3 separate regions of the Homo sapiens genome follow, and all the other regions are linked to region 1. The links come from fine-mapping of genetic effects on gene expression. A gene starts in region 1. Each other region holds a variant in brackets. All regions are shown on one strand. Distances are from middle to middle.

Region 1 (2,762 bases):
GATCTGTTGAAGAACTCAGCTGCTGGAAACCATGCAAAATGTTTTGAATTGCCCTTAAAATATGGAAAATGTTTTCTGAATGCTTTATATTCTTTCTGCTGTAAATTAAAAATGAAGAAAATTTCCCCATACTACGTGTGTGTTTTGCTTTAATATGACCGGGTAGTGAAATCTAAGGTGATGGGCACATGTTTCAAAACATATGTAATAATGTCAAGGATTTCCTTCTGATCCAGATGTAATGTTTTGACATTGAATGTTACATTGTTTCAGCTAGGTCCATGAAAGAAAAAATGTCTTCCAGCCACCATTCAGAGAGCTTTTCCCCTATCTTTCCAGGCACCTCTCAACATGTCAATCATTTGTGTAAGGCAGTGCAATTATTTGAAAGATAAAGACATTAATTTAATTCACCTTTTCAGTTACAATCCTCTAAAGTCTTCTAAAAGGCATTTTCCAGCAGATTACGAACGTCGTCCTTTCTGAGTATTGTGTCATCGCCGCTCCCTTCCCGTTCACTGCAGAGCCTCTCCTTATCTCCCTAGTGCTCCCTCTTCCATCTAATCCATCTGGCCACTACTGCCAGAGAAATTTTGCATCATGGATCTCCCACGTCCGTAAGTCAATGGTTTCCAGGGCCCACTACAATTAAATGACATTTTTCTTGTTTGTTTATCCTCTTTATTCAGTCTTCTTTTCACTTGTACCCAACCTGCACCCTCTAGGTGGTCTGTGCACACTGCGTCCATTTTCACTGCTGTCTTTGTTCATGGTGTTTGCCCAACCCTTACTTGGAAAGTTCTTTTCCACTAGTACCCAGCTCAAATCCCACCGCCTTTGTGACACTCGTTTATTCGATATATACTAACGTTTCCCTTTTCAAAGTATTCTATTTAGAGTTGGAAAAAACAGCATAGTATTTAAGTACTGTATTTTTCACTTCTCATCTAAGAGACCCACCAATGACCTATTAGTGTTTTATTTTTTGGTGTAGGTAACTATGTTGGTAGGAATATTTCAGTAACAAATATATACAAGGTAACTCACTGCGTTCAGATTTGTGCTTCCCTCCCTTCGACCAAAACCTGAGGACCTATTCTGTGCTAGGGCCTGAAAATACAGAAATAAAGGAACTACAGCCTTGATGCCAAGGCTCTCGTAAGCAGATTATAATATGATCTGCAGTGACAAATATTTGTGTCACCGATGAAAACATGAGCGGGAACCTCACCCAACACCATGTGACAAATACCCGAAATGGACTTCCTATTTCAACTACTTTAGAGAAACATGGTGCCCTCAGGATCACTAGGTTACTCTGGAACACTCAGCAGAAGCCAGTCATCTGTCTCTAATACTGTTAGAAATGGTCCCGAGCCCAGAATAACATGAATTGCCCCCACCCTCACTTATCCACGCAGTCCCTCGCCAGTGGCTAATGCACCACGTTTACAGACCACGTCCCCAAGCGCCAGCGCGGACGGCGGTGCGGACAGGGAGCTGTATTGACCTGCGTTCTGCGTTTCAGAGCCCGGACCGCCCTGGGACCCCTGTGGCCCTCAAGTTCCCAAGTGACCTCGTCCGGGGAGGGGACGTCTCGCTCTGACCCCGCCCTGGACGCACCCACCCACGACGCCCCCGCCCACTTCCGGCGCGCCCCCTCTTCGCCCCGCCCACTCCCCCGGCTCCGCCTAGTGACGTCTTTGCCCCGCGCCGCGCCGTCCCACCCATCTCCCTGGCCTCCGGTCCCAACTTCGCTTCTCTGCTGACCCTCTCTCGTCGCCGCTGCCGCCGCCGCAGCTGCCAAAATGTGAGTGACGCTACGCGACGCGGGCGGCTTCGGGCCCCGCAGGCGGCAGCTCGCGCTGGGACCGCCATACTGCCCAGTTGCCGCCGGCCGCCACTCGGACGCAGGCCGGGGCTGCGCGGGGATCCCGAGGCCTGGGGGTGGGCGGTGGCCCTTGGGTCGCGGGCTGCAGACGGGCCGGGCGGGTCCCGCGGCCATCGGGCGGACGCGGAAGGGGCAAGGGCGGGGCGGCGAGACGCTTCCCGGAGGAAGTGAGCTGCCCGCCCGCAGCCCGCTCCTCGCCCCTTCCCTTTCTAGTCCCCGACGTCCCTGAGAGGAATGGGGACGACAGCCCTGGTTCGGGAGCGCCCGCTCTCGGCCCGGTGCTGCGCTGGGCCCCAGAAGTTGCGAAAGAAAGGACCTCGGCCCTGTCCTGAGCCCCTGTGGGCCGAAGAGCTCCTTGCCTAGCTAGGGGCATCTGCACTGGAAAGATCACTTAACCGTGGGCCTTCGCTCTCTTAAGCGAAAGCACGTTGCAAACCCCTGCTTCCAGTGGTAAGACTCAGAGAATGCTAATGGTTAAGAATCACAAGGACTCCCTCTTCCACCTCCATTCTGCTCATTGCTCACCGTCGGAGGAAGCCCCGGGTTTCTTCCAGGAGCTGGGGACCCCCCTCGAATGTTCCTGCTGAGGCTGCTGTGCCAATAGATCACAGTGGTTAAGATCTAGAGCCAAGGTACACAGGACCTGATCTAAAAACAAGCTGTCCTGCAGCCAGCTGTGTTGACTCTCTAAACCTCACTTTACTCATTTGTAAAATAGGAGTAATATTCCCCTCAGAGAGTTATGAGGGTTAAAGGAGGAAAAGCATGGAAAGAGTCTAGCGCCACGGCATGGTCCTTACTTATCTACCAGATACTAAACTCCGTGAGGACGGTGATGAGATCTGTTGTAGCCCTGGTCATTGACACATGA
Region 2 (2,762 bases), 42 kb after region 1:
ATAACAGCTATATGCTTCAGGACTTGACATGATTTACACCACAGAAAGTCAAACTGCTGCTCCCAGAGGTGACATCACTGGGAACTTTCTTAGTTTGTACTGCTGTAACAAAATACCTGTGACTAGATAATGGATAAAGAACAGAAACCTATTTCTTACAGTTTTGGAGGCGAGGAAGTCCAAGATCAGGGCACCGGCAGGTTCAGTGTCTAGCGAGGGCCAGGTCTGTGCTTCTCAGAGAACATCACTTCCTTGAAGGGGACAAACGCTGTGTCCTCACATGGCACAAGGGACAGAAAGGCAGAAAGAGACTTAGCTAGTTCCTTCTAGCCCTTTTGAAAGGTTGCAAATCCCATTCATGAGAACAGAGTCCTCATGACTTTGTCACTTCCTAAAGGCCGTGGCTGTTCACTGTCACATTGAGTTTTAAGTTGCAACATAGGAGTCATGGGGGACACACACATTCAAACCATAGTAGAGCCCATTGGACTCCCCAGACAGAGCAAGTCCTGTTCTTTCATTTTTTTTCTTTTCACCTCGATAGGAAGTTGAGCATTCCATTGGTTTCTTCTGCTGTTACATGTAAGGGCACAAGATAGGAATCACAGCTGCTTTTTTTATTGTCCCTTGAAACCCCTACATTTCTCCTCTGCAAAAGAATTTATCTTAAATACAATTTTTACTATATAGATTATTATTCCATGTCCTAGCAGAGAGAATTCTTTTAGGAGGTTTTTAAAGCTAAAGTGTCTAAATGTTTTTCTCATTGTCTGGTCCTGCTAGTCCTGCTCACAGCTGCCTGGGCCTAGGATCTCATGGTAGTATCACAGTTTCACACACTGACCTCTGTCCTCATCTCAGTATAGCTTCCCTTCTCACTTGCTGCATTATTCAGTTTCTTATCATCGACCATGGATCTTGTAATGCCATCGGTACTATTTTTTTTTGAAGGCTATATCTTTAAGTAGATGGCAATATTCCATCATTCACTTTTTATAAAATTGAAGCTGCAGGTGGCCGGGTGCAGTGGCTCATGCCTGTAATCCCAGCACTTTGGGAGCCC[G/A]AGGTGGGCAGATCACGAGGTCAGGAGATCGAGACCATCCTGGCTAACATGGTGAAACCCCGTCTCTACTAAAAATACAAAAATTAGCCGGGCGTGGTGGTGGGCGCCTCTAGTCCCAGCTACCTGGGAGGCTGAGGCAGGAGAATGGCGTGAATCCGGGAGGTGGAGCTTGCAGTGAGCCGAGATCGCGCCACTGCACTCCAGCCTGGGCAACAGAGCAAGACTCCGTCTCAAAAAAAAAAAAAAAAAAAAAAAAATTGAAGCTGCAGGTAACTCCGTGTGCTTATGCAGCTACTTTAGAAACTGAAATGTTCCCACTCCTTAGATAGATTCTTACATTTGGCTCTAATAGCACACACAGGATGTGACTTTGGAGAAGAAGGAAGATCTCTTGCCATTTGGCACAGCTTTGGAGAACCAATGTTTCTGGGAGATCTTGATTTTATTAACATTTGGAGACCTACAAGTTTAAAGAGCTACAGAAACCTTTATACTCTTTGCTTGAGAGACATGAGGATGCAACTTAAAAATGTTATAATTTAAATGTTAGAAATTGACTAGAGATGTATACCAATGAAAAGGAAAATGCTTAGTTAAGCATGATCATTGTTTACATGTGTTATAGGAACTTAAGTTTAAAATTTATATTTATCTTTCTTACAACCTAAGAGCAAATAATGCTTTAAAGAGAGATTTTAAAAGTTAGTATGAGTTAATATGGGAGGGCAAGGAATAACAGGGATATGTAAAGCCCCTTCAGCTACATGTACAGAGGCCAACTACAAGAGACATCATTGAGGAAATCTGGGAAAAGTAAGTGTCCATGTCTAGGGTGATGGAATGTCTGAGTGAGAGAAGAGGACCCTTAAGTTGAACAGGTTCAGAGTGAGATTGCTTCCAGTTTCTGCTCAGGGATGTAGAGAGCCAGAAACAGCATCACCCCAGACTTAACAACAGAAAAATCTAGATGAAAGGCAAGTTCAAGACCTTTCTTGACTTCAGAGTGCTGAGGTTACAGAGCAGCCAGCAGGCCTAAAATCTAAGGAGAGAAACATATTTGCAGGGAGGAGCAAGATGCAGCACTGGATTCCAGTGCACCGACAGCCTGAGTCAAGTAACTTGCAAAAGACAGACCCTCTCGAAGGCACAATGCCAAGGAAAGACCAAAAGCTGAAAGTGGAGCAGATACTGAGAAAAAACAAAAAAATTACCCACCAAACCAGCCACCAGCTGAGGCAAGAAGTATAACTAGAGGAATTTGAAAGCTGTTGTACATGCTGTAGAACCATTACAATACTCAAACCTGGCCTAAAAAATAGATTAATTCAGAGGTCTAAAAGAAGGAAAGGCATGCCCAGTCTCTGTGTCCTACACAAGTTACACAGTTCTCAACAAGAAATTATGTAGCATATGATGGGCAAGAAGGGAAAAAAGAAACCTCCCAAGAGACAAAACCATCATCAGAACAAGACTCAGAGAGGACACAGAAGTTGGAACTATCTGACAGGGAAAGTAAAATAATTATGAATGATGTATTAAAGGCTAGTGGACAAAGTGGGCACCATGCAGGACCGGGTGGGTAATCACAGCGTAGAGATGGGCATGAAAGAAACCCTCAAATGGAAATGTAACATCTGTAACATCAATGCCAGAGATGAGGAACGCATTTGATAGCACTCAACACAGCCTGGAAAAGAAT
Region 3 (2,762 bases), 73 kb after region 1:
CCTGTGGTCCCAGCTACTTGGGAGGCTGAGGCAAGAGAATCGCTTGAACCTGGGAGGCGGAGGTTGCAGTGAGCTGAGATCGCACCACTGCATTCCAGCCTGGGTGACACCGCAAGACTCTGTCTCAAAAAAAAAAATAAAAATAGTTATAATAATAATAAAGAATGAACTATAATGAAATATTTTCAGACATGAATAAGTTGGGGATTTAGAAACATGTGACCAGCCTTTTACTGTTTTAAAACTCTTTAGGTGACATTGACATCAAGTAACTCGCCTGCTTTGTTCTTTTTTGGAGGCCTGTGTCACTTGTGAAAATGAAGATTCAGCTGATGGTGCGGCCACATCCTGTGGTCAGGTTCTGGTAGAAGACAGCTGTTGAGTGACTGTGAGGATGAACCTTCATACCCTTTCCAAGACGTGTTACACAGACAGACCTTTTTAAGTCCTGGACTTTTAAATGACCATGAAGTTATCATTGAATGTTAAGATTTTTTCTTCTTGATTTTTTAATACACGTAATCTTTTTGAAGCAGACATTGTATACAGAATCTTACTTCTCTTTGTTCCTGATATATTAAAATGGCCAGTTAGGCTCTTTTTGTAGTTGAATTGTCTTCTAAAGAGATTGGATGGCCTCTAAAGAGGTATGTGTATCTTTATTTCAGATGTCACCCAGAGTAAATTATAATTAGAAGTATAGCTAGAATGAGCCCCAAACCTTAGCCTCATTTATTTTGTTCTGTTACATAAGTCATTTTCCCCTTAGAGTGCTTGAAGAAATGCCACCTACAGGTTGTGTACTTTTCATAATGGTTTCCATGAATGTAGTACGTTCATACAGGCTTCATTCAACCTGGCGTTCCCCTCCATAATTAAGATGAAACATTCCGGTTTTCTCACAACACATTAGCACATACTGTCCATTAGCATATCTGGGATAACCAGGTTTTGGGGGTTGAGTTTTGGCCTTCATCCTTGTAGATCCCTTTCCTATTGATTTCCCACCTTCCAGTGAAATTCTGAAAGTCTTATCTTAAAAATCGATCCGCTTACCATGGGCCTATTCTTGTAAGTTTCAGTTAGCATTTGCATGTGTAATATTAAAATGAAAGAGCTTCTTACCCAGTGCTGTTGCCCTTTTGAGTATTTTTGTTTTTAAAATAATGATTGTAAAATGTTTTACAAGTAATGTAAAAGCTAGTATCATTCTTACATACTTCTGTGTTTAAATTTTCATTCTTACCAAAACAGTTAACTCTTTCTTTCCAATCAATTTATACAAAAGAGGTCGCTCCAGCCCTACCACAGGTCTGACTGGCACTGCCTTTTGTTTGCCCTTGAACAGGGCAGTGTTGTGGGGACTGCAAAAGAGAAAACGTCCAGGCGAGCCCAGTTGTCCTC[G/A]CCCACAGGGTCCTGCAGGCTCCATCAGTCACCGCTTTCTATGGCGTTTGTAGTTGTGTCTTTTAAGAAGTGAGTGTGATTGTTTACTTGATAAATCAGCTCACTCTCTGGTGCTTTTTAGAGAAGTCCCTGATTCCTTCTTAAACTTGGAATGATAGATGAAATTCACACCCCTGCAGATCAGAAAAAACAAATAGAAGAAAATGAGGGTTACAGTAACCTGTTGTCTTTATATAACTTGCAACAAACTAATTTATTTTTTTTTCCTTTTTTTGTTTTTGGTTTTTTATGGTTTTTTAAGGAAAATACTTTTCTCCTTTGAAGTTTTACAGCTTTTTGTAAATGCGTCCTGATAATGATTAGGAAAATCGACCTTTTCATCCATGATGACCATCCTCATAGCTCAGATCTCCTTTCAAAGTAGTGGCTTTCTGGATGGTAATTCCATCTTAAGGTGTCAGAACTATTTTCAAATGCTGCCTTTGACAGTTCTTGGAATTTTCTGATATTAAGCAGTTCCATGCAAATATTCGTGTTTTATAAATAGCTCTCATAGTCTGCTCCATCTTGATAGTTAAGTGATTTCTGAAGCGTTTGTGTGTGTGTTGATCAGGTTGTGTGATATTTTTGCTTGATAGAGAATCAAATTTGAAACAATTAACCAGCCAGTAGATTGTCTGTCAGTGACCTTCTGTAGTAATAAAGTTTTTGCCACTGTAAATAAAAACAGTATCCGTAGCTATCAGGATCATTGCGCACTCATATATGCTAAGCCTTCTGTTCTCTAATAGAAGCCTTTCTTTTCCATTGTTTCTGGATATTTGTATTATCCAAATGTGCTTATTTCTTTGCCTTAGCACACGTTTTATGGAGTACTTGTTATACTAGGTTTGATTTGAAACTGGTGCTTGTCGCAGAACTGTCAGAGCATGAGGAGCGCTCCTCCTGTGGGTGGACGCATTCACGCACTCCCAGGTTGCACCTGCTGCTGGCGGTGAGCAGGGGGTTCAGCAGCTTGACCGATGCCCCCCGAGGGGGCTCTCCCCAGCTTAAACTTTGTTGTTTAAATTTGTTAACTTTTTATATTAATGACTATTGAAAGTGGTAATAAAAATTTATATTATAGGCTTCAATGTTTTCATGAATGTTACCCAAAAAGCTGTGTTTTCTTTGGTCAGAGGTCAAAATTTATGAAAAACAAAATGCTGTATGAATGGAAATCATTTTGCAATTGAGTGACACTTCATTGTAATTCACAGTGTAAATTTAATCCAAACTGAAATTTTGTTTCAACTGAATTTGTAATTAACTCTGAATTTGTTTTTAATCATTAGTAATATTTCAGTTGGGTATCTTTT

The links. PIP is the estimated chance that this variant, and not a neighbour inherited with it, causes the effect.
Region 2: its variant is the best candidate, but not a certain one, in a credible set for the expression of VAMP3 in whole blood (INTERVAL, PIP 0.67).
Region 3: its variant is the best candidate, but not a certain one, in a credible set for the expression of VAMP3 in whole blood (TOPMed, PIP 0.58).

The regions. Positions count from the first base shown.
Region 1 is chr1:7,769,576-7,772,337 of GRCh38, forward strand. VAMP3 (vesicle associated membrane protein 3) reads left to right here and starts at 1,721. Exons shown (of 5, transcript NM_004781.4): 1 at 1,721-1,810. The coding sequence starts at 1,809. CAMTA1 (calmodulin binding transcription activator 1) reads left to right here. Exons shown (of 23, transcript NM_015215.4): 23 at 1-131. RefSeq lists enhancers at 925-1,621, 1,365-1,414 and silencers at 1,648-1,890, 1,855-2,084.
Region 2 is chr1:7,811,330-7,814,091 of GRCh38, forward strand. The region is part of intron 13 of PER3 (period circadian regulator 3); the gene reads left to right. It overlaps LOC124903833 (a long non-coding RNA gene), which reads right to left. Exons shown (of 2, transcript XR_007065450.1): 2 at 1-275. Among named protein-coding and RNA genes, the nearest start is that of PER3, 28 kb to the left of the region's middle. RefSeq lists a silencer at 1-146. The variant G/A (reference allele first, on the strand shown) is at 1,064.
Region 3 is chr1:7,842,374-7,845,135 of GRCh38, forward strand. PER3 (period circadian regulator 3) reads left to right here. Exons shown (of 22, transcript NM_001377275.1): 22 at 299-2,762. The coding sequence ends at 382. Among named protein-coding and RNA genes, the nearest start is that of UTS2, 9.3 kb to the right of the region's middle. The variant G/A (reference allele first, on the strand shown) is at 1,405.